4 linked regions of the Homo sapiens genome follow. The protein of the gene in region 1 interacts with the protein of each later gene in a biochemical or structural test. Each region holds a gene or a part of one and is shown on either strand. Other genes may lie near its edges.

Region 1 (7,697 bases):
AATGGGTTATGAAAATGCTTAAAGAAAATAAGAAGACACATGAACCAGAAGAGAGCATTAAAAGGGTTTTCTTTTTCCTGGAGATATTTTTTATAATGATGTTTGTTCTGACAGGAGTTGATCATACAAATTTTATAGCTGAATAAATGTGTGTGGTTTGGGAACATGAACACTGTCTCAGAGAACAAGGAAAGAAACTTAAGCAAAAAGTATAATTTTAAAAAGAGTATAATAATAGTGTTGCACAGTCATTCCTAACTTGGGTTTCTAAACCATCTACAAAAGCAGTGGTGAATGAATAATTTTAAATACAGTAGTACAAAAATACTTTAAAAATTCAATGATGAAGCTATCCAGACCAACCATATAGTCTGATTGAAAAATATGCATTTGATTTTTTAAACAAAAATGAGTAAATGTGCATCATTTCCTTTAATTTCTCAGTCCCGCTGCAATGGGATTTGTGCCCCTGATATGGTATTAGCACATAAGCATTACTATAATATTAATGGCTCTGCATTCTAGAAAACCAAAACAAGAGAAATAACACAACTAAAATGTGGTCTTTGTACACACTAATAAAGTATACAAATGTGTGGCAATATTTATCAAGCAGAAAGACAGAAGGCAATGATAAACACTTTAGGAATAAGAAAGGTGCTATCACTAAATAATGTGAAAAAAATTTAAATAATAGTATGAAAATGTTATGCTGCTAAATTTGAGAACCCAATATAAGGAAGGAGTTCTTAATCAAGATACCAAAAGCACAAAACATAAAGGAAAAGACAATAAATTGAACTTTATTAAACTTAAAAGCTTCTTTTCATCAAAAGACTCTATAAGCCAAGCCACTGACTGAGGGATTATGTTTGAAATGTATAGAGCTGATGATCAATCCATAATTCATAAATTCCTACAATTTAATTAAGGAAGAAAAAACTAGGTGACAAATGAGTAATCAACATGAATAAGAAATTAATGTAAGAGAACAGCAAAAGCCAATAATTATGTATGCAGCTTCCCTATATTTTTAGTAATCACTTCACATCTACCAGACACCAAGTGTTGTTGAAGATACATAGCTATGAGAATTCTTGTACTCTCTTGATGGGGATATATATCAGTACAACAGACTTGAGGACAATTTGGCACCACTCAGTTAAGCATGGGTGAATCCTATGACCCAGCAATACAACCCCTAGGTATTTCTCCTAGAAAATCCTGAATAAGGAAACAGGTGAAAGAATGCTCACTGCAGTATTAGATCTTCATAGTGGCTATCTATGAGAAGGAAAGAAGAGATAAGGATTTAATGACAGATACACAGTGACCCTCAATTTATCTGTAATGTTTTATTTCTTAAGCTCAATATACGGTATATAGTTCTTCCTCATGCTATTACTCATACTTTGTTACTTGTCTGAATTTTTTTCATAAAAGTTAAAAAGATGATAAGACTTACCAAGCTATCCACATCTATGCTGGAGTTTACAGCCCACTGCAATGTACTCATGATATTCATGGCTAAAGTCAGGATAATACCAACTCTTCCTTCTCCTTCTCCTATAGATGCACAAAAGACGTAAATGAACCTCATGTTATTTCTCTCTTCTGTGAACGACTTTATTCACACTTCTCCTAGGGCACATATCACATTAAATTTACATTTCAATTTTATGCTAATTTTAACAATTTTTAAATCTCAGTTCATCACAGCATCTACTAATAGAATAATGCTCTGCATATAGTAAGTATTCAACCAGGATTTTAAATCAAAGAGCGATTGAATATTAGGAAAGTGTTGCCCTTTTTAAAAAATGTTACTGGTATTGGAGGTGTTGTTGGTAATGGGTAGGTACCATATTTGTCTCTTCTACTATTATTCTATAAGTAATAACGGTAACATATATTAGAATGGGCAATGGGGAAAAGAGATCCTGTATCCAGATGAGCTGCTTTACAAAGAGACCAAAAGCAGGGGAAGAGTGTCCAAACAGCATCTGCAAGATGTTTAGGTGTGTTCTGTGCCTTTGCAAGGAGGACCTTTGCTAATTGCATGCTATTGGGAAGTAAGTGGACTTAGAATTTCACCGGACAGTCAGAAAACTAACAGTTCTGCCATTTGGAAAGAGAAAAGATTACCCTCTATGCAAAAAAAAAAAAAAAAAAAAAAAAAGATTACTGTACCTGGGAAGAACAACACTTAAGTGTTAAATTACAGTAATTTTTTTTTTAGGGCTAAAGAGGACAGCTAATTAAAATTCATGTGTTCAGTATTATGGCCATAGAAATTCTCTAAGAGGAATGTTCTTAAATTATTATAAAGTTAGACTATCAAGTCCCAATCAAGAGTTCTTACATCTGTAATGCATGATAAAATTGTCAAAAGATTCTACAATTGGGAGAAATAATTCATCTTATTATTAATTGAAATTTTTGTTTCTGCAATTCCTCTAACAGAAGGCATAATATACACAGCATATATCTGCATGTAGTATTAAATTATTTTCATATAGGCAAGATTTATCTAGACCCCAATATATTACTGTTCTGAAGGTTAAGCTGAGAAGATAAAATTTTAATAATAAGTCAGATAACATTTATTTAGTATTTACCATGGACCAGGCACTATACTAAGTGTTTTGGACAAATTATTACATTTACTATTCACCCCACACCTATGGAATAGGTAATATTATTGTGTCTATTTACACTTGAGGAAAATGAGGGGCTTAGATAGTTAATTAATGTTTGCAAGTTAACACAGCTGAAGACCAATTGAGCCAGGGATAATAATAGCTGGGTGGCCAACATCCACTCCGGCTGAGCATCTGATTTGATTGGTAAGTTCTGTACTATAATGATTGTTAAATGTTTTGATTATTGCCCCTAATAAATCAAGACTCAATCACACTCAACCATGTTATAGCATGTGTTATATTGGTTTGAATTAATTGTTAACAAATCTTCATTTATGTAATTCAGCCTTCTTTGATCTTATTTTCAAATAACTTAAAAGAATTTTTTAAAGTTGCTTAAAATTACAGTACTGATGAGGATTAGTACATTTGCCTGCCCATGTATATTCCTTTCATAGAGTCATTTCCCACTGCCCTAGCTGAGAGAACAACAAAGGTGGTGAACCCACTATCCTCATAGCAGCAGAGTAGACTGCAGTTGGACCCCTGAGCCAAAAGGAAGCTGTTTTCTGTTCTCTCCAGGACTTTGAGTTTGTACAGAGGAACTCTCCTGTAAATTCAGGAGGCCAGAATGGAGACACTACATAAAGTCAATGTGGCATAGCCCTGGTAGACCAGAAAAACCAGTCTTCAGAGAGAGAAAGGAATGAAGCAACCACAAAAAGGAATGGACCCAGGACAGATATAGACTCAAGAAGAAGAGCTGCAGCTGACTCTCTTGTGCCTGTTGCAGCTTCTTTAAGAGTCGAATGGCACCACCTTCTCGGTGTTCCATGAGGCCTTTCTGTAACTCCAGCAAATGCCTGCTTTCGGTTTGAGTAGAATTCTGTTCCTACAATCAAATGATCCTACAGATTTGGCATTGATTTGGCATTTGCTCTGCCAGTATTCACTGTCACATATAAGAAGTTATTTCAACACTTATCATAAATACTCAGAAATTCAAATTCTTAAATTAGAGAAACAAATTTACCTACATAGATTTTTATTTTACTTATTATGAAATACTTTGTTTTTCACTAAAGATCCTAAAATCAATCCAGAACATTTGTATTTGAAAAACATGGCACTTTCTTTTCTTCTTTTTCTTTTGAAAAATGTGACACTGTCTTTCTTTTCTGTGACAGTTTTTCTTTGTGTAAAACTCACAATTAGATAACAAATTTTATCTAGTAGAGATTTAAAAAAAACAAAACTTACCGACAAGAGGAACTCTGTGTGTGTGTGTGTGTGTGTGTGTGTAAATGCGGATGTTTCATTTCCCCTCTTTAGGAATCTATTAATTTTGAAGCTAGGACCCTTCACCAATATGAGTATGAAGAGGTGACATATTTCCCCTTCAATCACAGAATTGCTATCTGACAATCTGTGTGCATCGGTTTTTAAAACTGTGAAAACAGGGATAATACTATATATATATATGTATATATATATATATATATATATATATATACATATATATATATATATCCGATTTCAAGGAAATTATTTGTTTAACAATAAAACAATGGAAATTCAAAGAAATCACTTGTTCAATAATAAACCAACAAATTTGTTAATTACTAAACTCTAAAGATATCAAAAATTGATAACCTATAGAATGCAGCATTTTATTCATTGAAAATTTTTTACTTAAATGCTTAGCTAAAGTTAATGAGTTCATAGTACCTGTTGTTAAAATGGAAATGAAGGTAACAGCAATGAAGAAGATGACAAAAATCATTTCTATTCTCATTTGGAACCAGCGCAGTGTTGACAGGTACAAGAACCAGTTGGCAGTATGTAAATTCAGAGCTTTGTGGAACAGAGTTTCAAAGTAAGGCTGCCGTCCGAAGGCACGAAGTGTCCATAGTCCTTTTAAGCTTGTAACAAGATGAGTGAAAATTGGACTCCTGCCTGTGAAATATTTCCATAGAAAACATTGCAAATAACATAAACACAAAATGTAATTTCATAATATCTTGTACCTGAAAAAGACTAAATTAGAATAATCATATCACAAATGTCATTGGTTAAAAAGCTTTTTTTCACACTGGTGCCATTCTTTGAATAGATATGATTTGTTATTTTATTAATGAGTTACCCTCTTTTTTTACTTGGCTACCAGAGATGGGAACTTAAAAAATTACCACCAATATTTATTCCTCTTTCTTGGCTACCACTGGGAGTTTTCTGGCTAATTCTAAATTAATTCTTACTAAAAAAATTTTCTTTTAAGACAATTTTTTCAAGTATCTAAATTAAGGAAGTTTATGTGACTTGATTTAGCTAATAATCTACAAAGCAGAAATATACTGAAAAAGTATTGCCTGAAAATGCACCCACACTAAGGCTGTCACTGCAAAATGTGATTCCCTAACAGCTCAAGTAGAGTTTGGGGGCACACGAAATGGCAGCTCCAACACATGAAGAAAGGGTGTCTGAAGACAACAAGCCAAAGGGACAAATTTGGTCAAGTATCATTTGGGAACCCAGAGAAACCTTTAGTAATAGCAGCACTATCCTTGTTTAATTTGACTGATATAAGTTTATTATAAATGAATGTCCTGTACACCAACTGTGGTAAGATTCTATATACCTATTTTAAAACCAAAATGAAGTCACATGGTCATTAATTAAGAAAAAAAATCCATGTGTACTTTGTAATATAGTTTCCTTTTATATACACATGCATGTAGAAAAAAATTATTGTTATATGATGTAAAAGTTTAAAAGCAGAATTTTTTTTAAGTAGATTAACAATAAAGAATCTCAAATAGCTCTTATAGCTTTTTTACAAGATGAGTATCGCACATTCACTGTCATACCTTCAGATTCCAGTTGTTTGAGTTGCTGTGAGGTTTGGAGGAAATATGCTCTCAACATAATAAAAGCCACTATCACTGGCACTGTTGCAACAAAGATGTAGGGTTGTAAAACTGCGACAACTGCTATAGCTCCAATCACAATTAATAACAACTGTAAGATCAAAGAAAACATGTTGGTGAGTAAACATTTTCACATTGCAAAGTGGACAAAGTGTGTCAGTGATTTATTTCTTTTTTTTTTTTTGCATACTTTAAACACCTCAAACTTTTTTTTATTTTTTTTATTATACTTTAAGTTTTAGGGTACATGTGCACATTGTGCAGGTTAGTTACATATGTATACATGTGCCATGCTGGTGCACTGCACCCACTAACTCGTCATCTAGCATTAGGTATATCTCCCAGTGCTATCCCTCCCCCCTCCCCCCACCCCACAACAGTCCCCAGAGTGTGATATTCCCCTTCCTGTGTCCATGTGATCTCATTGTTCAATTCCCACCTATGAGTGAGAATATGCGGTGTTTGGTTTTTTGTTCTTGCGATAGTTTACTGAGAATGATGTTTTCCAATTTCATCCATGTCCCTACAAAGGACATGAACTCATCATTTTTTATGGCTGCATAGTGTTCCATGGTGTATATGTGCCACATTTTCTTAATCCAGTCTATCATTGTTGGACTAAATACTCTCCCCATTCTATTCCTAGTCAGAAAGTAGCCATTTGCAAGTACATTTTTCATAGGCTCTATGAAAATTTTAAAAATTGTTTAGGTCACTGATAACATTTTTGAAGTTTGAAAACATGGTGTTCTTTGATCTTTGGATATTTTCATTTCCCAGACACTTTAAAGTATTGCATGATAAATACATTTTAAGTGAATATTAATTTAAAATAAACTATTTTTAAATAATTTTAGTATGAAGGTGAATCTTAGGATTTATTTTGGTTAGACAGTTTTTGAAAGCTGGGCATTCGTCTTGGAGTCTTTTGATTCAGAAAGTTCTGCTTGAAATACAAGCTTGTCATTTAGGCAAGCTATCTAACCTTTCGGAGCATATTTTCTCATGCTTAACATTGAAATAAATCATACTTAATAAATTTCTATATTTCTACATTACACCAAATACATACATTTTTAAAAGGTACAAAGTCCGCTAACATGTACTTCACAATAATCCATTTGAATAAAGTATAAAGTAACTGTCTGCAGAAAGGATTAAAAAAAACCACTTTATAATATCCATATGCTGTTCAGTGAGCCAGTTCTCTACCCGTTACCATAAGTGACACATGTATTTTCAACTGATATAACTTTAGAACTGAAAGGGACCATTATCAGGTTTATATTCCCCATTCTACAAGTGACAAATCTGAGACCCTTCAAGATAAGTGTCTGCTCAAGGTAAAATAGTGGGAATCTGTAGAAAATAACCAAGATTTTCAATTTTCACTATACAGTGCTCCAATCCGGAAAGCAAATTTGTCAGAACATTGTCAAAGTTAGAAAATAGAATGAAGATTACATGAGGTATCAAAATACTCAAACTCAAAGAAGCAAAGAACAGAACCATGGGTAACAGGACAGGGGAGAGAGGGAAATGGGGAGATACTAATCAACAGGTATAAAATTTCAGTAGTGCAAAATGAATAAGTTCCAGAGATCTGCTGTGCAACATTTACCCATGGTGAACAATATTGTATTTTACACATAAAAATCTGTTAAGAGGGTAAATCTCATGTTAAGTGGACTTGCCACAATAAAATTCAAATTTTAAAAAGAGAAAAATAATAGAAAATAGAGTGAACAGAGACTTTTTTTTAAAAAAAGAAAATTTATAGGTATGCTTTATTTTGTGCAACAGATCTGCTTCTGAAATATCATGAATAGAATGAAATTTCATTTGTTTGAAATTAAGTATAACCAGAGGTAAAACATAAGTATAACCAGAGGAGCTCACAATTTGAAGGACCCCTGTGATTAATTATTTAACAAAATCAAAATTAACCAAATTTGTACTGTATTTGGATTGTCATATATTATGCTTCCTTAATATGAGACTCTCTTACAAATAAAATGGGTAAATTAATATAAAAGACCTCTGCCTAATCACTTGTGAAACAACAACAAATGAATCTTAGCATTAAAAGTTGAACAGGGCCTGGTGCAGTGGCTCACACCTATAATTC
Region 2 (7,697 bases), on another chromosome or scaffold:
GCCACCCACAAATTTACTACTGAAAAGTATTAATCCTAACGCCAGGCATACTGGCTCACACCTGTAATCCCAACACTGGGAGGGAAAGGCACAAGGATCACTTGAGGCCAGGAGTTCAAGACCAGCCTGGGCAAAAATAGCAAGACCTGTCACTACAAACAAAAACAAAAAGCAAAACAATAACAACAAAAAACAGCCAGGCATGATGGTGGATGCCTGTAGTCTCAACTACTAGGGAGGCTAAAGTGGGAGGATCACTTGACCCAGGAGTTACTGGCTACAGTGAGCTATGATCACACCACTGCACTCCAGGCTGGGTGACAGAGCAAAACCTTGTCTCAAAAAAAATAAATAAATAAAAATAAAAGATATACATATATATGGGGCCTCGCTATGTTACCCAGGCTGGTCTCAAACTCCTGAGCTCACATGATCCTCTTTCCTCAGCTTCCCAAAGTGCTGGAATTACAGGTGTGAGCCACAGCACCAATCTTTCATTAGCTTTTTTGTTAATTTAAAAAGTAATATGATGTTCACTGTAAAAATTTCAAAACAAAGATGTGTAAGTAAAAAGTGAAAGCCCTCCCTCTTACGAATCTTACTTCCCTAAGGTAACCAGTTTACTATGTATTTCTAATAACAAAATAAAATAAATGTGTCTATACACTCTATTTTTTTCACATAAAAACAGGATTACACTGTATATTCTGTTCTGCAACTTTTTTTTTTTCACATAACTTTTATCATGGATACTATCAGATCTGATAACTTCCAAACTGCTTTATTACCTGATATCTTTGATTGTGGCCCTCTTCATGGGATCCACCTGCAGCATATGTTTCAAAAGGCTAATCACAGAAGGATTTAAATATTGAGGGGTATAGAAGATCCCATCACATATCTTCTTAAAAAGAGTTGGCACATGGTCATCATCAAATGGAAGGGTTCCACATAATAAAGCATAGAGAATAACCCCACTGCTCCATATATCTACCTCTGGGCCTGCATACAATCTGTAACAGGAAATAACAATTGGATTAAAGAATCATTTTAACCTAAGATTCAGTTCATCAAAAACTTCAAATATGGATATTTCATAAAGAATTCTTAAGCAGAATATGGTTTTTATAGCCACTACTACATGTTACAACGTTAATTCCATCAGTATTATCTTTGAAAACAAAAGTCAAGAAGTTTGTAAATTACACACCATGGCTAAAATTCTGTTCTACTATTTACTATGGCCCTGATGGGATCTGACAATAGGGCCAAATCTTGAACAAACATATCACTATTCAATTTAAAACCATTGGTTTTTGTTACAGAGGAGAGATTAAGTGATATTTCATCAACTGAGAATGTTCTTTAGTAATGGACTCTGAGCCCACAATCCCAATAACACAAGACCCCTTACACCAAGGTGAAAGGATCCTGAGGCTGTGAAAGAAAGCCAGGCAAATTGGTTCACAGAGTTTTTAAATCCCGTTTGCAGTGCATTGTAGTCAAGTGCCTTAACTAGCTGCAGACTAGTTAGATCACCCATTCAAAGCCTGGATTCAGGAAAAGGATTTCTTTAAATTTATGTACTGCTGAACTGATCGATAAATATTATTTTGAAAGTAAAAGTTCTCATACACCAAGAGCTTGAAGAAAGACTTTATCCAAACTAGAAAAATTAAATTTCAGTAATAGCCCATTGCATATATGCACAGTTATAACATTTCTTTTTATTTATTTAAATAACAACTTTCCACAGTCTCCATGTCCTGAATTGTTTTATTCCTAAAAGAATTAAGATAGACAACACCATTTTTTTAAAAATTTTTTAAATAATTTTTGACATTAAGTTAATATTTAAAAAAAAGATGAAACTTGACAAATCTAAAATTAGGTACTCCTGCCTTACTCACAGCCATATTTTTACACAAATCTCATTTCTTTGAGCAGTCTAGGCCAACAAGCTTATAAAAATAGAAAATACTACAGTATTTCTGCATTGAGTTAATCAAGATGCAAAACATTCACACAAATAAGCATGGTTTGGGTGAAAAGTTATTAAAAGTTCATTATAAATCTAGCAAACTTCAGCTTCTGTTTTCAATTTCAGTAGTATAGTGAAGGACAAAGAGTTATTCTTAAAAATATTAAATTCTCCTGTTTTCCAAACTATTCAAAAAGCGACACTGTACAAATATCTTCATGTTCTCAATGCTGGTAGTTAGTAAATTGAGAGGTTAAAATTCTTATAATATTGCAGTCTCTAAAAGGTTTAAAGAACAAAGATTCAACATAAATGAAGTCTAAAGATTACTTCAGCCCAGTTCCCCAAGACATTTTATCATGAAACATAAAGGTACTACAAAATGCCATCTATGTAAAAAATTAAAGCTACACATTACATGTTTAATTTTTCCTCTAAGTAAATAGTAATCCTTTTCTAACTACTAGATATTTCTGTATTATTCAAGTTTCCAGTGTCTTACCTACTTTTTAAACACCCTAGTTTTAAACTTTCCATTTCTTCCACCTGGGAAAAAAATTAATGTACTCTCTTCTAACAACTTTAATATAATGTTGACTTGTAGTCCTTAACCCTCATTCACATATAAATGTGGTTAAGAATAAGCCTTATCTTTCTTTCCTTTCATTAGAATTAAATATGACACTATAGACTAACAAAATCTAGGAGAAAAAGACAATTTCAAATGTATTGAGGGAGGCAGGGTATCAAATACTACCTTCCTGAAATTACTTCTGGTGCAGCATAGTTGGGTGAGCCACAACTTGTTCTTAAAAATTCACCATCTGACATCATGTTTGAAAGACCTGAAAGTGCACAAAATCAGCTACTCAAAAGATTTCCCAAAGACAAAAATTAAAATCCCATTAAACAATAAAATTGAGTTTGCATTAAAATGATAAATCATCATTTTGTTATTTGCTTCAACAAAATCCTATGGTCTATTGTAGCCAAATATTCTGCCATTATGCCCTAAAATGTGTAATCTATTTCAACATTTAAAGTTAGTGCACTGTTAGAGTTTAATACAAATATATTAAGCTGTTGGTTATTTTGCTTATTAGAAAAAACTTGCCATGTTTAAGTTTTATTAATACAGAAATCACTAGGGAAAATAATCTATAACAGATGAATAGAAGGATTAAAATTCAAAGTTCCTATTAAGCCTGTTCTGATTCTTTAAAAAAAAAAAAAAAAAAAAAAACAGTAATTTTGAATTTCAAAGTTCCCTCACAGTTTTACTCCAAAAAGAAACTGTTGCTCCCTCAAAAATGCACCCTATAAAAATAATCAACTGAGGAATAAGAAATTCAAATAATTTAGCCAATTACTATTTTAAAAAAAAACAAAACACCAAAACAACCAGCTCAGGTTTGGTTGGCATTTTCCAGTTAATCTCTGAACATTTAAATAGATATAGTTATAGATATAGATACATAGATGTAGTCAAAACTGAGGAAAATTTTTATAAGAATGTTCTCTGGGCCAGACATGGTGGCTCACGCCTGTAATCCCAGCACTTTGGGAGGCCAAGACAGGCGGATCACTTCAGCTCAGGAGTTCGAGTCCGGCCTGGCCAACATAGTGATTCCCCATCTCCACCAAAAATTAAAAAAAACATAGCTGCATGTGGTGGCCCACATCTGTGGTCCCAGCTACTTGGGAGGCCAAGGTGGGAGAATTACTTGAGCCTGGAAGGCAGAGGTTGCAGTGAGCCGAGATCGTACCACTCCAGCCTGGGTGACAGAGTGAAACTCTGTCTCAAAACAAAAAACAAACAAAAAAAAGTTATCTGATTTGAACTAAAACCAACCTAAAGAAAAGAAGAGATTCCTTTTTCTCTTAGGTTTAGTAAGGTCAATGGCAATTTATATAGGAAATACAGAAAAAATAAATTCTTTTTTTTTTTTTTTTTTTTTGAGACCGTGTCTCACTCCGTCGCCCAGGCCGGACAGGCGATCTCAACTCACTACAACCTCCACCTCCTGGGTTCCAGCAATTCTCCTGCCTCAGCCTCCAGGGTAGTGGGGACTATAGGCACGCACCACCATGCCCAGCTAATTTTGTATTTTTAGTAGAGATGGGTTTTCACCATGTTGGCCAGGCTGGGCTCGAACTCCTGACCTCAGGTGATCCGCCCGCCTCGGCCTCCCAAAATGCTGGGATTACAGGTATAAGCCACCACGCCCAGCCAAAATAAATTCATTTTTAACAATCAAAATGTTCTTTAAACAAATTATAATTTACTATCATTTAAAACATTTTTAAATTTTTAAATAAATTTTTTTAATTAAAAAATTGTTTTAAATAATTTTAAATAATTAAATTCACATAGTTCACTTCTGGTTTTTAAGGTTTTAAATAATTCCATCCCACTCACTTTCCTTCTTCTCCATACTTGATTCTTTTGAACATACTGGAAATAAAGCTGCTACCTTCTCTTTCACAAATAATACTCTTTTCAAATAGTCTCTCTAATACTACCAACTTAAGTTGTTTAAAATTTAATTTTAAAGATATTTAAAGAGCCAGGTGCAGTGGTGCACACCTGTAATCCCAATACTTTGGGAAGCTGTGGTAGGAAGATCACTTGAGGCCAGGAGTTCAAGAGCAGCCTGGACAACATAGTGAGAACTTGTCTCTACAAAAAGACAAAACAGCCTGGCATGGTAGTGCACGCCTGCAGTCCCAGCTACTCAGGAGGCTGAGGCAGGAGGGTCACCTGGCCCAGTAGTTTGGGGATGCAGTGAGCTATGATCACGTCGCTGCCCTCCAGCCTGGGCGACAAAGCGAAACCCTGCCTCTATAAAATAATAGTAATAAAGACATTTAAAGCTAAGAAAAGATGATTTCTTAGCTTTTCTTCTTTTTGTATCTTCATAGACAAAACAGAATACTTTGATATACTCAGTCTATTACTTTATGTAATCTTTTACAGTTATCTGAAGAATTCTAGGTAGGTTCATTGAAACTATAAGAACATTAGAAATGAACGTTAAGAAACTATAAAATTATCCTTACCAAAATCAGCTATCTTTGCATTCATGTGTGCATCAAGCAGGACATTTTCAGGTTTCAAATCTCTATGGACCACCATATGCCTGTGACAATAATCCACACCAGAAAGGATCTGTTGGAACAGACGCCGACTTTCTTTTTCATCCAGCTAAGAAAAGTTAGAGAGGCTTTTTAAAGGTGTGTCTTTCAAAGTAAATTGTCCTATCTATAATTCTCCAACCTATAAAATTGTCAAAATACATGAAAATCTTCCCAATGAACTTCACTTATGAGATACTTTTGACATGAGGAGGAGATACCTGCAGCACAAAACAGAAATGCTAAGATGGTCTTGGAACCCAAATCAGTAACTCAAGTTTCTAATATTATCATTTGCATATGACTACATTGTAACAGCTTGCCTTCCTCTATATCTCATGAGTTATTTCAAATAATTTCAATATCTACTTGAAATTTGGCATATTTCCTTTTATAAGCGGCAAATGTTTACTCTTTCATTCTTTTAACAAATTACTGAATACCTTCAACGTGCTACACATTGCTTTAGACACTCATTACACAGCAATGAATAAAACAAAGGCTAATCTAGTTGATGAAAATAGACTAATAAATATAGTCAGAAGGAGTGATACTGTTTTGAAGAAAAATAAAGCAAAATATAGGTGCAGTGAGTGATAGTGGGGTGAGGGACACTATTTTAGACCATGAGGAAGTAATATTTAAGCACTATTCATAAACCAGCAAGCAACTATGTTGCTATATGTCCTAAAATAGAAGACATTTTAACAACAAACACCTTAATTCATTTAATAAAATATCATAGCATTTTATCTTTAATATGCTTGCTAAAAAAAAAATCTTACATAGCAACTACCTTTTCATTTTTGTTTTTTGTGTTTTTTTGGGGGGGCGGGGTTTTAAATTTATCTATATTTTGAGATCCAGTCTCGTTCTGTCATCCAGGCTGGAGTGCAGTGATGCCATCACGGCTCACTGCAGCCTCGGCTTCCCTGGGGTCCCGCAATCCTCCCACCCCAGCCTCCTAAGTAGTTGGGACCACAGGCACATGCCACCACGCCCACTAATTTTTGTATTTCTGATAGAGACAGGACTTTGCCATGTTGCCCAGGCTGGTCTCGAACTCCTGAGCTCAGGCAATCTACCGCTTCAGCATCCCAAAGTGCTGAGATTACAGACATGTGCCACTGCATGCAGCCTGAAGTATTTTTTTTAAACTTCTCTATGTATCCATATATTATTACCACTTTTTTCAACATAAGTGACAGCCATTACTTGGACATGCCTGCTCCCAAGAAGTCATATTTAATAAATAAGCTATTAATCCTCTAGGCGAAGGACTCCAATATGCAATTCTCTAACACAGGTCACAAATTAGCATTCTAAAACCAGACTTACACCTTAAAGGGCATGGATAATATGGGAGAAAATACAAATCAGTAATTTATTTTGAAACAAGAAACTATTATAAGATACCATTCCTCTAGAAAAATACTAATCCTTTAGCATTCTAATACTTTTATTTCTAGATTTGTAGGTTCATGGGGAAAAAAAAGAGTATCTGTTCAAATATGAAAAAATAGGAGAAAACTTGATTAAACAAAATATAAAAAGTAAAATAGACAGGCTACAAAAATGAAAATTATACTGTATTAGTAACAAGTACAATTACAAAGGATGGAGAAAGGGATGTCTATAAAGGAAGGTTAGAAAAGTCAAAATACATTTCCAATTAAATGTAACAGATTAAATCTTTTGTCTCCAACTCTTGAAACATCACTAAAATGACATCAGCAATAAAACAGGCATATAAAGACAAAAAGAACAAAAGAGACAGCAGTAATCAAGAGGAGTCACCAAGGATGACAATAGATAAACAGTAATAAAGACTAAGCCTACAAGAGAAAGCTAAAACCTAAGCCTATAGGGGTAGAAACCAGTAAAAAATAAACATCTGCATACAAAGCCTGGGAAGCCTTAGAAATTGGAAACACAGGGAACTGCTCAAGGTAGAAGTGAGAGATGAGCTGAAAACAGGACAAGTGCTTGAAGTAAGAAGCTTTTAAACTCACCCATATTGGGGAATAAGACCTATAATTTACTCTAGTAAGGCTGAACCAGCTCTGCTCTCAAGGACACCAAGGCAGGGATAAGGCATCCTAAGGAAAACATGGGGGCTAAGACAAAGTCAACATACTAACTAGTGAGACTTGCATCTCTTTTCTCCACTCAGCTCCTGGAGCACTGGCAGCTAAGCTAAGGCCTTTAAGGAAATGGGAAGGTTTCTTCTGGAGCAAATATCTGATCCAAGAAAACATATTTGTTATTATTAGCATTTGGTATACAGTAATAAAACAGACAAGTCCCTACCTATTCAAGCTATGAGAAAACCCAGCAATCAGTAAGTCCTACCCACATGAGCCTGGCATTTAATACCCTATTCTTAAATATTTAGTGGACAGCCAAGAATCACCAAATATCTGAAGAAGGGCCATGCATCAAAGACAAAAATGAATAAAATGAATGCAGAGAGCACAGAAGGTACAGAACAAGACGGAACAGAGGAAGACTTTTTTTAAAATGCCATCCTCAGACTAGGTTATTATATCTGTGAGGCAAATAACAGCAGACTAAAAAAATG
Region 3 (8,051 bases), on another chromosome or scaffold:
GAAGCATCACTTGAGCCTAATAGTCTGAGACCATCCTGGGCAACATAGCAAGACCCTGTCTCTACAAAAAATTAAAAAATTAGTCAGGTGTGGTGGCATGTAGCTATCATCCCAGCTACTCGGGAGGCTGAGGTGGGAGGATTGCTTGAGCCCAGGAGTCTGAGGCTGCAGTGAGTTGTGATCATGCCATTGTGCTCCAACCTGGGCAACAGAGTGAGACCCTGTCTCTCAAAAAAGGGGAAGCAGGTATAGATTCCCAGAGGCAGGCTGATGAAAAAAAGGCATGGTAGATGGACAGACTGCCTGCTGAATTCCCTCCCTGGTCTCTCACCTCCCCTCTGGCCACCTTCTGCTCCAGCTTGCAACTCAACAGCCTGGGCCCTGAGGCCTGCAAGGACCTCCGAGACCTGTTGCTGCATGACCAGTGCCAAATTACCACACTGCGGTGAGTGACCTGGGAGTGGGGCATCCTGGTGGCCAGCTAAGGTCAAGGGTGAGCTCCCTGCTTCCTGACATACTTGGCACAGACCCACCCAAGGGATAGTAAATGGAGGAGAGTCTAGGCCCTGACCTGTCCCCTCCACTTCCCCCAGGTCCACTGCAAGCAGCAGGGCAGCAGGGAAACATGCCACCTGTAATGGGTGCTAAGAAACCTCTCACGTGGCTAAAATCAGCCTGGGGGAGGTGGGGAGAGAGGGTGGAATAATACCTAGGCCGGTTGCCTGGTAACAGTGCCACTGATCCCCTCCCAGGATTTTTCTTGCAGCCTCCCGAGGAGGACCCTAATGCTGGGCACTCAGTAGACACCCCTTAAGTGTTGACTGATATGTGGGGAACCTGAGCTCCTGGGTTCCCAGTTTCTGATTGGTGTAAGGGGAGGCAAATGAGGAGAGAAAAAGGAAGAGCAGGGAGAAGGATAGGGGAGTCAGAGGGGAGGGAGAAGCAGAGGCTGTGGAGGGGGTGAAAAAGGCAGAAAAAGGGAAACGGAAATGGTGAAAAGGAAGGGAATAGATAAGAAGGGAGTCAGGGGAAGAGGGAAGGAAAGGCCAGCTCCCCTACTCTGACTCCTCTGCCAGGCGCCACACCCCCTATTGCTCCAGCCTTTCTCCTGGGCCTGCATTTCTATGTCCAGGTTCCTCTTGCCCCATGCAGGGCCCTCTTTGGCCCAAGTCCTGACACCCAGCACAGGGCTGCCCCATTAAGGCTGCCAGTACCACCCCCAACCTTGCCTCCCCCTCCTCTCAATGAGCCCTCATAACCTTGGGTTGCACGTGGCTGTAGGCTGTCCAACAACCCGCTGACGGCGGCAGGTGTTGCCGTGCTAATGGAGGGGCTGGCAGGAAACACCTCAGTGACGCACCTGTCCCTGCTGCACACGGGCCTTGGGGACGAAGGCCTGGAGCTGCTGGCTGCCCAGCTGGACCGCAACCGGCAGCTGCAGGAGCTGAACGTGGCGTACAACGGTGCTGGTGACACAGCGGCCCTGGCCCTGGCCAGAGCTGCCCGGGAGCACCCTTCCCTGGAACTGCTACAGTGAGTCCTGTCCCTGGTCCCATTGCCCCCAGCCCTTCAGACTACTTCCCTCTCTCAACTGTGCTCCTCCAATCCTAGGGAGTGCTTCTGGGCCTGGGCCTGGTGCCTGTCCTTTATTCCTGGTTTCTGACTGATCCTTGTCAACCTAGCTCTGAGCCAACCCACCCCCTCTGTGACTGGCGCTTAAACTGCACCAATTCCCTACCACCATTTCTCCTAAAGCCCTACTGTCTCTGGTCCCACTGAATTCTAGTATCAGGGTCGGCTGTGGTGGCTCACGTCTGTAATCCCAGCACTTCGGGGGGCCAAGGCGGGCACATCACCTGAGGTCAGGAGTTCAAGACCAGTCTGGCCAACATGGTGAAACCCCGTTTCTACTAAAAATACAAAAATTATCTGGGTGTGGTGGTGCGCACCTGTAATCCCAGCTACTTGGGAGGCTGAGGCAGGAGAATCACCTGAACCCGGCAGGTGGAGGTTGCAGTAAGCCGAGATCATGCCACTGCACTCCAGCCTGGGTGACAGAGCAAGACTCCATCTCAAAAAAAACAAAAACAAAAACAAAAACAAAAACAAAAAAAAAAAAGAATTTTAGTATTAGTCCCTGCCTCCCACTGGCCAGCAGCCTCCACCTCTGGCTCATTGCAGTTACCTGATCGCACTCTGCAGCCAGGAGATGAGTTGTGAGGCCCCCTGACTTTCCATCCATCTACCCTCGGGCCCTCCTTCTCAGAGCTCTACTGAATGGCATCGACTTTCTCTCTCCTGCCAGCCTCTACTTCAATGAGCTGAGCTCAGAGGGCCGCCAGGTCTTGCGAGACTTGGGGGGTGCTGCTGAAGGTGGTGCCCGGGTGGTGGTGTCACTGACAGAGGGGACGGCGGTGTCAGAATACTGGTCAGTGATCCTCAGTGAAGTCCAGCGGAACCTCAATAGCTGGGATCGGGCCCGGGTTCAGCGACACCTTGAGCTCCTACTGCGGGATCTGGAAGATAGCCGGGGTGCCACCCTTAATCCTTGGCGCAAGGCCCAGCTGCTGCGAGTGGAGGGCGAGGTCAGGGCCCTCCTGGAGCAGCTGGGAAGCTCTGGAAGCTGAGACACTGGCGGCAGGCACCTAGCTATGTGACCACTGGCCCTAAACCTTTTCCCTCTGTGGCCTCCTGGCTTGCACTGCTCCCTCTAGAAAGATTCCTTCAGGTCTGGAGGCAGAGGAATGGGCATAGCTGAGCCAGTTGCCCTCCTAGGGCATGTTTGACCAGGACTGAGTCTGGAATCTCCAAGTTAAAGATGGTGAATCAATGCTTCGGGCTTGGAGATGGAACATGCCTCCTCTCCATTCAGCTAGAAGGACCAAAGCATGTGGCATTTGGATGGCCAGAGTGCCCTGAAGCACCACTACCAACCTTGCCTCCCCCTCCTCTCAAAGAGCCTCTGACTGTGTCACCAAGGGGCTCACATCTTATGTCTGCCATGCCAGGGGTGTCGCCATCCAGATGTGTTGGAAGCTTCCCCTCCTGCCTTATGCTCACCTGTGGACACCGAGGATGCCCTCACATTGGTGCTTTCTCCTCATCCTCATGCCCCCTTTGCCACAATGGTATGATGGCTTGGTAGCCCCTCGAGGCAGATGCACCTGACTTGCTGCTATTAAAAAGCCGTGTGCCTTCTACCAATTGTGGCCTCTTCTTTACTGCCTGGTGCTTCCAAGAAAGGGCACTGTTCTTGGTCTTTCTGGTTAAACTACCAACCATGATCTATTGCAAGTGGTTCTTGGGCACTAGGTTCAGAGGCAGTGGAGGCTGGAAGGGCCCATGAACAAGATATTGGCATGGGGGTTGGCCATGCTGGGCTGTATTAGTCCAGTCTCACGCTGCTAATAAAGACATACCCAAGACAGGGTAAGTAATTTATAAAGGAGGCTGGGCATGGTGACTCACGCCCGTAATCCCAGCACTTTGGGAGGCCGAGGTGAGCGGATCACCTGAGGTCAGGAGTTTGAGACCAGCCTGACCGACATGGATAGACCTCGTCTCTACTAAAAATACAAAATTAGCTGGGTGTGATGGCACATGCTTGTAATCCCAGCTACTCGAGAGGCTGAAGCAAGAGTATTGCTTGAACCCAGGAGGTGGAGGTTGCCGTGAGCCGAGATAGTGCCACTGCACTCCAGCCTGGAGAACAAGAGTGAAACTCTGTCAAAAAAAAAATTTATAAACGAAAGAGGTTTAATTGACTCACAGTTCCACATAGCTGGGGAGGCCTCACAATCGTGGCAGAAGGCAAATGAGGAGCAAAGTCACATCTTACATAGCAGCAGGCAAGAGAGTGTGTGCCGGGGAACTCCCCTTTATAAAACCATCAAATCTCATGAGACTTATTCACTATCATGAAAACAGCACGGGAAAACCTGCCCCTGTGATTTAATTACCTCCCACCGGGTACCTCCCATGACACGAGGGAGTTATGGGAGCTGCAATTCAAGATGAGATTTGGGTAGGGACACAGCCAAACCATACTATGGGCCATAGAATTATCACCCTTTTCACACTTACCCCCCAGGCTTGGAGTTAGTGACCAGCAATCTGCCTTTCTCTGCACAGAGGGGCAACTGGGTCAGATTCAGGGTCTCCAGAAAAAGTTGGGGCCCAGGGATAGATTCAGGAGGAACCCACACAGTTTTCCAGAGGATAAGACTCTCAGCGGGGCACGGTGGCTGACGCCTGTAATCCCAGCACTTTGGGAGGCCGATGAGGGCAGATCACCTGAGGTGGGGAGTTTGAGACCAGCCTGACTAATATGGAGAAACCCCATCTCTACTAAAAATACAAAATTAGCCAGGTGTGGTGGTGCATGCCTGTAATCCCAGCTACTCGGGAGGCTGAGGCAGGAGAATTGCTTGAACCTGGGAGGCAGAGGTTATGATGAGCCAAGATCATGCCATTGCACTCCAGCCTGGGCAACAAGAGCTAAACTCGGTCTCAAAAAAAAAAAAAAAAAAAAAAAAAAAAAAAGACTCTCACTCCCGTTAACCATTACCCCACTGCTTCCACAGCGTCTTCAAGGAGGCGGGACCTGGGAGGGGATGGGTGGGAGGATCAGTGGCTGTGATGAACCTTGTCCCTACCCCGGGCACTGGGTTGCTGATCCAGCTATGGAGAAAGCCGCAGGTAGGAGGCCAGGAGAAATCCTCTGCAGGGGACTTTGGGACAGGCAGGGGGCCGACTTGGAGGCTGAAGCTTTGGGACCAGGGCACACTTGATTTTGGGGCTTGGAGCCCTGAGGCAGGTAAACAAGTCAGGAGAAAAGTAATGAGTTGATATGTCTGTCTTCCTGGTCCACACCCTGTACTGATATGCTCAGATTTATGTGCCAAGGACTTGGGGGGAGAGAAAGGGAGGGGACCGCACAATAGTCCTGTGTGTATGGCAGTGAGAAGAGAAGACCCCTTTGGAGCAGAAAGGAGGGGGCATGCCCTGAGTTTGGGGGTTTCCCTGAGTCCTTTTAGTTTATGCCAATGGAAGAGGCACATCTGGGGAGAAGAATGTGACTCTCCTCCTCTCACCCACTTCTTTGCCCAGTAGATCTGCAGGACACAGCCTCGTTAACTCTGTAAGTGCCACGAGGGTTGGGGCAAGGGGAGGAAATAATTGGAGGCAGCGAAGCGCTTCACTGCCATTAGCACCTAAAGGAGATCCTGGGACCCAAGTCCAGCTGCCAGCTTGTACCTGCTTCCCCTGCCTCCTTGCAGGAAGTTTAAGTTTAACCCAAAGCTGGGCATTGATAATCCTGTCCTCTCCCTGGCCGAAGACCACGACCCCTATGGTAACTCCCTCACCCCCTGGCAACCATTCCCTATCCCTGGAGGCACCACGGCTCCACACGGCCTCCGATCTCCTTGGTAACCACTCACTCGGTCTCCCTCTGATAACAGCCTTGGTTGGGAGTAGAGATAGGAGGGGCCGGGTGTTTTCTCCTGTCCCAGTCCCTCTGCCCACGAACCCCACCACCCAACACCCAACCAGGCAGAAACTGCCCAGCACCCTATCAGGACACAGGGTCTGCCAGGCACACGGCGAACCTGTACTTGGGCTGTGCCCTCTCCTCCCCCTTTTCTGCTGCCCACCTCACCCTCCAGATCCCTGGAGCCTGGAGCGGCCTCGCTTCTGTTTACTGAGCAAAGAGGAGGGCAAGAGTTTTGGCTTCCACCTGCAGCAGGAGCTGGGCAGGGCTGGGCATGTGGTGTGCAGGGTGGACCCAGGCACCTCTGCCCAGCGCCAGGGTCTTCAGGAAGGAGACAGGATCCTGGCGGTGAACAATGATGTTGTGGAACACGAAGACTATGCGGTGGTAAGGCTGTGGTCCAGGAGAGCATGCTAGCACCTCAGAAAGAGAAGCGGGTTGCTCAGTCCCCTGGGCAGTATGGCAGCAGGGCACAAGCCTCACTCCCCCACACCCCAGGATTTAGAAGTGCCCAAGTCAGAGGGGTAGGGAAAGCATCTAGAAAGCCGATTCCCGCTGGGCGCAGTGGCTCACGCCTGTAATCCCAGCACTTTGGGAGGCCAAGGCAGGTGGATCACCCAAGGTCAGGAGTTCAAGACCAGCCTGGCCAACATGGCAAGACCCTGTCTCTACTAAAAATACAGAAATTAGCTGGGCGTGGTGGCAGGCGCCTGTAATCCCAGCTACTCGGGAGGGCTGAGGCAGGAGAATCACTTGAACATGGGAGGCGGAGGTTGCGGTGAGCTGAGATCGCACCATTGCACTCCAACCTGGGCGACAAGAGCAAAACTCCATCTCAAAAAAAAAAAAAAAAAAGAAAAAGAAAAAAAGCCGATTCCCTTGGCAAAAAAATGTGGATTCCAGGGAGGTCCTGGGGGTTGGCAAGAGGGTCTAGACCAAACCCACGCCCACGTGCCCTCTGTCCAGGTGGTACGCCGCATCCGGGCCAGCAGCCCTCGGGTGTTGCTGACAGTATTGGCACGGCATGCACATGACGTGGCCCGAGCTCAGCTGGGAGAAGATGCCCACCTCTGTCCCACCCTAGGCCCAGGGGTCCGGCCCCGGCTGTGCCACATAGTGAAAGATGAGGGTGGTTTTGGCTTCAGTGTCACCCATGGTGAGCCCAGAGGGTGCGAGGGGGCGGCAAGGATGAGGGATCTCAGCCCCTGTTCAGGGCAGGCAGGAAACAGACTGGACCTTGCTTTTTTTTTTAATTTCTAGGCAATCAGGGTCCTTTCTGGTTGGTGCTAAGTACTGGAGGAGCAGCTGAGCGGGCAGGGGTGCCCCCCGGGGCCCGGCTGCTGGAAGTGAATGGGGTCAGTGTGGAGAAGTTCACTCACAACCAACTCACCAGGAAGGTGTGACTGCCTGTCTCCCACTCTCCTCCCCCAATCCGGGCCTGGGCCCCACCTCGGGAAGACGCCTCCTTCCCCATGCGCCTAACCTCCTTATCTGGTCTCCTACCTTTATCACCATCCTCCCCCTCTACAGTTTGTGCCAGGCTCCACTTAGTGCCTGGGAGGAGGGGCTGTGGGGGGAGCATACCTCTTCTCTCCCTGCCCAGGTGTTATACTGATGCCCTGCTGGGTCCCCACAGCTTTGGCAGAGTGGACAGCAGGTGACCTTGCTGGTGGCAGGGCCAGAGGTGGAAGAACAGTGTCGCCAGCTGGGATTGCCCCTGGCTGCACCCCTGGCAGAGGGCTGGGCACTGCCCACCAAGCCCCGCTGCCTGCACCTGGAGAAAGGGCCCCAGGGTTTTGGGTTCCTGCTCCGGGAGGAAAAGGGCCTTGACGGTCGCCCTGGTGAGTGGGAGCCCTGGGGGCGGTGGGGGAAGGTGGGCCTTGGGGTGGGCACACAAGCGTATATACACCTTTCAGTGCACCGAAGAGGTGTCCCTGTCTGAGCTCTGGCCCTGGGCCGCCTCTTCCCGTTCACTCTGGGGTCAGTCCCCTGGTGTGTACACAGTGGCCTAGGATAGCTGGAGAGGAGCAGTGAGGATGTCTATGCCCCAGGACAGTTCCTGTGGGAGGTGGACCCGGGACTGCCAGCCAAGAAGGCTGGGATGCAGGCTGGGGACCGGCTGGTGGCTGTGGCTGGGGAGAGCGTGGAGGGGCTGGGCCATGAGGAGACAGTGTCCAGGATCCAGGGGCAGGGCTCCTGTGTCTCCCTCACTGTCGTCGACCCTGAGGCGGACCGCTTCTTCAGCATGGTGCGTGCTGAGGGGCAGGGGCTAGGGTTGGGGCAGGAGTGGGGCAGGGCTGAGGTCCGAAAGATTTGCTCTCCCTGCCACCTTCCAGGTTCGCCTGTCCCCACTCCTCTTCTTGGAGAACACAGAGGCTCCCGCCTCGCCCCGGGGCAGCAGCTCAGCCTCACTGGTTGAGACAGAGGACCCTTCACTTGAAGACACAAGCGTGCCTTCTGTCCCTCTTGGCTCCCGACAGTGCTTCCTGTACCCTGGGCCTGGTGGCAGCTATGGCTTCCGACTCAGTTGTGTGGCCAGTGGGCCTCGTCTCTTCATCTC
Region 4 (7,697 bases), on another chromosome or scaffold:
AACCGGGGAGGCAGAGGTTGCTGTGAGCCAAGATTGCGGCCCTGCGTTCCAGCCTAGGTGACAGAGCGAGACTCCATCTGTTAAAAAAAAAAAAAAAAAGGCTGTAAAGTGCTTCTATTAAGTGAAAAGTTCTCGATTTAATAAGGAAAGAAAAAATACTGTATGCTGAGGTTGCTAAGATTAGCTCAGTTATTGTTAATCTCTTACTGTGCCTAATTTATAAGTTAAACTCTATTGTAGGTATGTAAGCACAGGAAAAAACATATAGGGTTCGGTATACTATCTTAAAGTTTCAGGCCTCCACTGGGGGTCTTGGAATGTATCCCCCATGGTTAAGGGGGAACTGCTCTATTAATATCTTTGAAGAATTGACAGCATTTCTATAAGTAGCACCTAAATCTCACCACCTAAATGCATTCGGGTTCTTCCCTCCCTCCTGTGCCTGTCCTTGTTAGCCTACATTGGTGAGATGACTCCACAGCATACGATGGCTAATATAATAGTACAAACTGAAGAGGAGAGAATGGTAAAGATGCTTTCTGATTCTACAAATGCAAAGAAAGGGCGTATGACACAATAATGCAGTGTGGGCATGTTTTAGCGCTTTCTGGTTCAAGGGGCCAAGGCCACCCAAGATTCCATCTTTGCATTTAGCTGACCTCAGAAATTCTATTCAAATCAACAAATACCCACTGAGTAAAGGCTGTGTCAAGTTCAGTGCCAGGACCTATAACTGTGATTTTAGATCAGAAGCCAAAGGCCGAGTTAGCTCTAAAATCGGAAGTTTGTTTCACATTATTGGGAGAAAAGTCTTTACCATTGGATTTCGAGTTTTTCTTTGCAATGGAGTGTTCTGTGAAAGGGTGGTGTATGCAAAGCAGTCCCTCAAAGGCCAAAGGAGCTGAGAAACCAAAGGACAAGGCAGGCAAATCCAGTTTGTTGGTACATTGGAATTTATCAGGGGAACTTACGAACAGAAGCATGGTCTTGGACAGCCACAAAACATGTAGATCTCTGTGTTACTCCCCAGACCCAAGGCTGATATACCATAGGGAAAGGGTATATGTGCTCCAGCAAGACAATCGAAGGCAGCCCTCCGCAATAGCCAAGAATGCTATAGTGCATCATAGCCTATAATTTGCGTGATAACATTAAGGTTGACATGTTCTTAGACTAGGGACAGTAAATGAAGTAGAAATCGGGAGGCAATCACAGGACTGGGGCTAATCAGAAGTCAACATCACAGATTACCATCCAAGAGGGAGTCACTTGTGTCTCCACATGGAGTTTACCCCTACTCTCTTCCAGGTAAAAAGGGGGTGTACATGACTGATATTACACCTCAAGGTGTGGCTATGAGAGCTGGAGTTCTGGCTGATGATCACTTGATTGAAGTGAATGGAGAGAATGTAGAGGATGCCAGCCATGAGGAAGTGGTTGAAAAGGTATGCCCCAAAGGGTACTTTTCTTACCCTATCTTCCACTCTATTCTCATTGGAGGTGACAGGAAGACAGGGGTGGTAGGGGACAGCATGAGTTTATGATGGAAAAAATATCCAGTTGAGTTGCCCCTTCATATTAAGGGTGAACAGACTCACACTAGTGGTATAAGCAGTGTTAATATAGGGTTTTGGAATAAAGCCTTCCCTAGTTTCACATGAGGTCTACAAAATTATTAACTTTACCTTTTGGATCTTGTTTGTATCTGATTGGGAGCCCCCTCTGAACTGTTTGATTGAGACAGGGTCTCACTCTGTTACCCAGGCTGGAGTGTAGTGGCACAATCTCGGCTCATTGCAGTCTCGGCCTCCTGGGCTCAGATGATTCTTCTACCTCAGCTTCCTGAGTAGCTGGGACTACAGGTGTGCACCACCGCACCTGGCTAATTTTTATGTGTGTGTGTGTGTGTGTGTGTGTGTGTGTGTGTGTGTGTGTTTTGTAGAGATAGGGTCTCACTATGTTGGCCAGGCTGGTCTTGAACTCCTGAGCTCAAGTGATCTGCCCGCCTTGGCCTCCCAAAGTGCTGGGATTATGGGCGTGTGCCACTGCGCCCTCTGAATTTACAATAAGTTCACTGTTGAGCCGTTAATACTGAAATGCTTTAATAGGAAGTGGGAGATAACCGAGATTTTCCTTTGAGGTCATATGGAACCTTAAAAATTGACCAACCTTCTCTTTGTAGAATGATTTTTTGACGTGGACCCTTACTTTCTTTTCTTTTCCAAACTCCCTTTCTAGCTTTTATCTAGGTACCTTTATGGGTTTTCTGAATTCCAGCTCCTACTTGGGCTCAGTTAGCACCTATGTGGGTAGGTCATACTTAAATAAGGGAAAACAACTATAGAAGTGGAGATAGGGGCCGGGCGCGGTGGCTCACGCCTGTAATCCCAGCACTTTGGGAGGCCGAGGCGGGTGGATCACGAGGTCAGGAGATCGAGACCATCCTGGCTAACAAGGTGAAACACCGTCTCCACTAAAAATAAAAAAAAAAAAATTTAGCCAGGTGCGGTGGCGGGCACCTGTAGTCCCAGGTACTCGGGAGGCTGAGGCAGGAGAATGGCGTGAACCCGGGAGGCAGAGCTTGCAGTGAGCTGAGATAGTGCCACTGCACTCCAGCCTGGGCGAAAGAGTGACACTCCATCTCAAAAAAAAAAAAAAAGGCGATAAATACATATCAGTTAGCTGGTAGGGCATAGTGTAACAGCTTAAACTCAGGCCTTTCATCCCCTATCTTTTGTTGAACCTAGAGACTGTGTGCCTTTATACAGAAACTTTCTTATTCCCCAGCATTGTTCTTGGGGGTTGATGTCATTCCTCATCTGTGTGTGTTGTTACAGGTGAAGAAGTCAGGAAGCCGTGTCATGTTCCTGCTGGTGGACAAAGAAACTGACAAGCGTCATGTTGAGCAGAAGATACAATTCAAAAGAGAAACAGCCAGTTTGAAACTGTTACCCCACCAGCCCCGAATTGTGGAGATGAAGAAAGGAAGCAATGGCTATGGTTTCTATCTGAGGGCAGGCTCAGAACAGAAAGGTAAGGTACAAGAGCAGGAAACTTGGCAGTAACCAGCAAATTCCTCATCCCATTCTGACTCCAGAGTTCCATTAGGTTCCCAACTCCCAGCCAGATGCATGAGCGGCATAGCATAGAAGGCACAGCTGGGTCAGCGTCTATGTCACATGAGGGTCTGATGTTGGGCATCAAAAGTTTCCATAGCATTATGATAAGGCAGAATTTGGGATCTGGGCAACGGTATCCTGGTAAGTTAGCTCTCTGGGGCGGGGGTGGGGGGAAATCCAAATTGGTAGCGTTTGTTTTTGGTACCAAATTGGTAGTATTTTGTGATGTAAATACTCCTCCCATGTCCAGTTTCAACTTACTAACACGATGTCACTGAACACAATGAAGTGTTGCACAGAATTGGCTTTTGTGAGCCGGTGTGAGCCAGTATAGCACACCGCTGGACCTGAGGCCGAGGTGTGGGTGAGGATTTGGGACTCAGAACCAGGAGTCCTCCTTCCTTGCAACTCAATAGGAAGAACACTAGGTTCTTTCAGGGAAGGTAAATACATAAAAGAACATGAGTTCGGGCCGTATAAACTGCTATTCGCCCATAAGTTGTTATTTTCTTTTCACTCTCTGTTTACATTAATTTATCAAATATTAATTTGGTTTGTGTTTTGTAAAAACATCCTCAGTGCCTTGGAGAAAGAATATCATATGAAGCAGACAGGAATTCTTTAGTGAAGGAGTCTACCATTTAGTAGATAAGAGATATGTCCATAATGAAGGGAGATAGAGGTTAAGTACCTTCATACAGGGGCAGATCAAGCACTGTGATAATTCAACGTTAGAGTAAGCTTTTCTCACTAAAAAGGTACCAGAAGCCCTCATAGTAGGGGTGGCACTTGAGTTCAGGCTTTGTAACATGAATAGATTTGGGAAAGTAGACAGAGCTGGGATAAGGAAGATCATTCCAGGAAGGTGGGAATCATGTGAACACAGTCAGGAGACACTGGCACAGTTTAATTGGCACATGATGTGTAGTACAAGAATTCGTTGGAAAGGTAGGTTGGAGAGAGGTGACAAGGGGACTTCTATGCAAGACTGATGAGTTTGAACTTGGCTTATCAGACAATGGGGAGTTGTTTTTTGAGCAGTATAAGGGAGAAGAACAAAAACCAGCCTATAATGTCTTGGGGGCTTTGCACATCTCAATTACTCCTAACAATTATGCAAGAAGAACTGCTGAAATTGAGGGCTTGGAGAAGATACAGTAATTATGTAAGGTCAAATAGTTGTTTAGTTCCAAAGCCCATGCTCATTCTGTTGCACCAGGAAGTGACTTGGTTAGGAATGTGCACCAAGATGGATCTGAAGGCAGATCTGTATCAGACAGAAGGACTGGGGAAGGGAAAGCAGTAGGTAAGGTGCTGTAATAGTTTAGGTAGAATTCTAGGCAGGAACTAATACAAACTGCATTCAGGGTAGAGGAAGTGGGATGTGTAAGGTATTATGGTAGCATCAGAGGACTTAGCAATCGTCTAGATATGGGGACTGGATGCTGGGGAAGAATCAGTTGCCAAGTGTTGGTGACTGGGATGATGTTGCTCCACTAACAGGTAACCAAGAGGAGGGGCTTTGGGATGGAGAATGGGCAGAGCTGATTTTTGGCTTGAATACATTACAGTTGAGAGATCTATGAGATATTTTGTTGGAGATACCCAGCAGCTAGCTGGAAAAGTGAAACAGGAACTTGTTAAAAAAAAAAAAAAAGGCAGCATCTGGTGAAGATACCAGAAGGCCAAAGCACATGGAGGCATGTATATACAAATATATTCAAAACCGAACACACCCAATTGCTACTAAAATGCCAGCCTGGGTTTCTTAAGGTCCAAAGTTTTGGGTTTTGTTCTTTATTCTTCCCCATCTTTTATGACAGCTTTTACATAAGACGCGTGGCTACAAGTATGCCCACTGACTTTCTGGGAACTTGCAGCCTTTTAATATGCTATTTTGCCAAAATCAAATGTCAGACGCTTTTAGTAACAGGATTATTTTCGTTAAGACCCCTTCATTGTTAATTGCTGGGTTAGTTTCTGGGGTGAGTTCTGAGCAGGAAACGAGCCTAGATAGTGTGCTTATAAGCTTCCTGGGATGCTGGTGGAAGGGGTGGTAGTTGTACTCAGCATGCCTTTTTTATCTGTTTCATCAGGGCTTTGGGCTCCAGCAGAAAATCTGTTTTATTTTTTTAGGGGACTTACTGATAATTTTATTTTTTGGGGTTGGGGGAGGGTAGGTCAAATCATCAAGGACATAGATTCTGGAAGTCCAGCAGAGGAGGCTGGCTTGAAGAACAATGATCTGGTAGTTGCTGTCAACGGCGAGTCTGTGGAAACCCTGGATCATGACAGTGTGGTAGAAATGATTAGAAAGGGTGGAGATCAGACTTCACTGTTGGTGGTAGACAAAGAGACGGACAACATGTACAGACTGGTAAGTAATACAAGGCCATATATTCATGCATTAAGGCTGGGCCCATTCACTCATGACCTCAACTTTTGCACTGAGTTAGGACTTTGTTCCTCAAACTGGAAGAGGCATAACAATCATCATTAAGGCTAAACTGAAGCTCAACTCAAATTGGTAGTGATAAGAGAATGCCAAATGATTGATAAATGAGTTTTAAGTCCTTGGTCTTAAGATTTTGAAAGAATTTGTGAATATAACTGCAGGCTTACTCTTGGTGATCTGAGAAAATCTATGGAGAATATAAGCCTGGAAATAAAATTGTTCCCAAAATAGGAAACAATTAGATTTTAAGCTTTAGGTCAGTTAAGTGCTATCAACTGCACATAAAAGCCTAGAAAGGATTATTAAACAACTTGTAAGCCCTTAGCAAATAAAAAAGAAACACAGATAGACCAAGACCAACCTGAATCAAACTAACTTTATTTTCTCTTAACAGCTCTTTATCATAACACCCACTACTGCATGTTTTAAGGTTTTTTTTTTTTTTTTTTTTTTTTTTTTTACTTTTAACACAAGAACTGAGGTTGTCTAGTTTAACAGATAACCTGGGGGGCCTTCTAAGTACCATCTGTCTTGCTAAGTGTTGATTGTAAAGATGAACAAGATAAATGTCCTCTGTGATATACAATGATAGTAGAATCTAAAATAAGCGGTACAGAGGGGGGAATATGATGGGTGGTGATATCTTAGGCCCTCCTCATAGATTAGGAAACCGAAGCTTAGAGAGACTAAGCACTTTGCTAAAGTCACGCAGCTTAGTAAAGACTGAAGGTGGTATCTGAACCCAAATTCTTGGACCCGTAATTCATTATACCATACTCCCCAGCACATTTTTTCAAGATAATCTTGTAAGCAGGATTAAACAATTAATTAGATTAATGGCTTTTTTTTTTTAGCTACTTGAACAATCATACCTAGAAAATACTTGATATCAACCTGAATATCAACTTGAATAGAAGTCTCTAATGGCATGCTACTTGTTCCTAACCGTTTATGTGCTTAAAGTTGAAAGGAGATATGGAAAATATATTAACATACTTAAAGTGGCACTAGATAATTCATTTGCTGGATGGTGTAATTAATACTCAAAATATTTAGTTAGGATAGAAAGAATGAAAACTAAAGAAATAAGAATAAATTTCAGATGTACTATACTAACCTAAAAGTAAATTGTATGAATACCACATGGTGAGACCTGATTTGAGGACTACAGAAAAAGACCAGAAACTTCATAGTCCAAGTGGTTGCCCCATCCAAATATGGTAATTTAAAAATTAACTGACAGACACTTGGCTTCTAGAGATGACCATCTTACTGTACTTACTTGGTCAGACCATACTTGGAATACCTGGTAATATAGTTACCACCTCTCTCTGTGCTTCAGTTTCCTTAGTTGTAAGAGAGGGGTAGTAGCTACAGCGAAGGGTGGCTATGAGGGTTGAATTGGAATATTCAGAGCATGTAGAATAATGCCTCACACATCTAAATGTTCTATTTGTTCAATCAATATTGTGTCCGGTTTCAAGAACTTCACTTTAAGAAGGCAATGACAAGGGTAACCAGGGAAGAGGTTTTGGAAGCCACCATGTGAGTATTTAGCTTGAGTAAGGCTTTGGAGAAGAGAGCATCTTCAAGAATTTGAAAGGCTATTACATGTAAGAAGGAGCACACTTTTTTTTTTTTTTTTTGAGACGTTGTCTTGCTCTGTCACCAGGCTGGAGTGCAGTGGTGCCATCTCAGCTCACTGCAATCTCCACCTCCCGGGTTCAAGCGATTCCCCTGCCTCAGCCTCCTGAGTAGCTGGAATTACAGGTGCGCACCACCATGCCCAGCTAATTTTTTGTATTTTAGTAGTTTTACCATGTTGGCCAGGATGGTCTCGATCTCCTGACCTTGTGATCCGCCCGCCTCGGCCTCCCAAAGTGCTGGGATTACAGGTATAAGCCAACACGCCCGGGCCACACATTTTTTTTAAGGTGTCCTATGGGGCACAACAGGACCAGAGAAGCCATAGGGAGCTAGCTTTTGGCTTAAGAACCAACTGAAGCTGCCAGAAATGATGAGTCATTTTGCAGTTGGTGGAAAGTCAAGCAGAAATCAGAGGCGGCTGCTGCAGCTGTTTGTTGTAAAGGGGATTCTGACCCCTCCTGATCTTATCATAGAAT

What was found.
Region 2: the proteins of CFTR (region 1) and PRKAA1 form a complex in vitro, tested with the Homo sapiens proteins (2 studies listed by BioGRID, with this or other methods).
Region 3: the proteins of CFTR (region 1) and NHERF4 form a complex in vitro, tested with the Homo sapiens proteins (2 studies listed by BioGRID and IntAct, with this or other methods).
Region 4: the proteins of CFTR (region 1) and PDZK1 form a complex in vitro, tested with the Homo sapiens proteins (2 studies listed by BioGRID and IntAct, with this or other methods).

Annotation. Positions count from the first base shown.
Region 1 is NC_000007.14:117,608,482-117,616,178, reverse strand, and holds part of CFTR (cystic fibrosis transmembrane conductance regulator), read right to left. Parts: intron 5,661-7,697; coding exon 5,510-5,660; intron 4,599-5,509; coding exon 4,371-4,598; intron 1,567-4,370; coding exon 1,466-1,566; intron 1-1,465. UniProt on the Homo sapiens protein: Epithelial ion channel that plays an important role in the regulation of epithelial ion and water transport and fluid homeostasis. Mediates the transport of chloride ions across the cell membrane.
Region 2 is NC_000005.10:40,766,678-40,774,374, forward strand, and holds part of PRKAA1 (5'-AMP-activated protein kinase catalytic subunit alpha-1), read right to left. Parts: intron 5,187-7,697; coding exon 5,042-5,186; intron 2,827-5,041; coding exon 2,739-2,826; intron 2,261-2,738; coding exon of another isoform or gene 2,206-2,260; exon of another isoform or gene 1,759-2,205; intron 1,014-1,758; coding exon 789-1,013; intron 1-788. UniProt on the Homo sapiens protein: Catalytic subunit of AMP-activated protein kinase (AMPK), an energy sensor protein kinase that plays a key role in regulating cellular energy metabolism.
Region 3 is NC_000011.10:119,180,813-119,188,863, forward strand, and holds the start of NHERF4 (Na(+)/H(+) exchange regulatory cofactor NHE-RF4), read left to right. Parts: upstream 1-4,662; 5' UTR 4,663-4,682; coding exon 4,683-4,698; exon of another isoform or gene 4,699-4,816; intron 4,817-4,823; exon of another isoform or gene 4,824-5,109; coding exon of another isoform or gene 5,110-5,112; coding exon 5,113-5,140; intron 5,141-5,279; coding exon 5,280-5,353; coding exon of another isoform or gene 5,354-5,666; coding exon 5,667-5,878; intron 5,879-6,457; coding exon 6,458-6,647; intron 6,648-6,751; coding exon 6,752-6,888; intron 6,889-7,094; coding exon of another isoform or gene 7,095-7,106; exon of another isoform or gene 7,107-7,127; coding exon 7,128-7,332; intron 7,333-7,476; coding exon of another isoform or gene 7,477-7,508; exon of another isoform or gene 7,509-7,542; coding exon 7,543-7,739; intron 7,740-7,827; coding exon 7,828-8,051. Other genes in the region: NLRX1 (NLR family member X1 isoform 1 precursor), read left to right, coding at 359-445, 1,282-1,533, 2,306-2,627.
Region 4 is NC_000001.11:145,676,248-145,683,944, reverse strand, and holds part of PDZK1 (Na(+)/H(+) exchange regulatory cofactor NHE-RF3), read left to right. Parts: intron 1-1,308; coding exon 1,309-1,445; intron 1,446-2,837; coding exon 2,838-3,033; intron 3,034-5,299; coding exon 5,300-5,496; intron 5,497-7,697. UniProt on the Homo sapiens protein: A scaffold protein that connects plasma membrane proteins and regulatory components, regulating their surface expression in epithelial cells apical domains.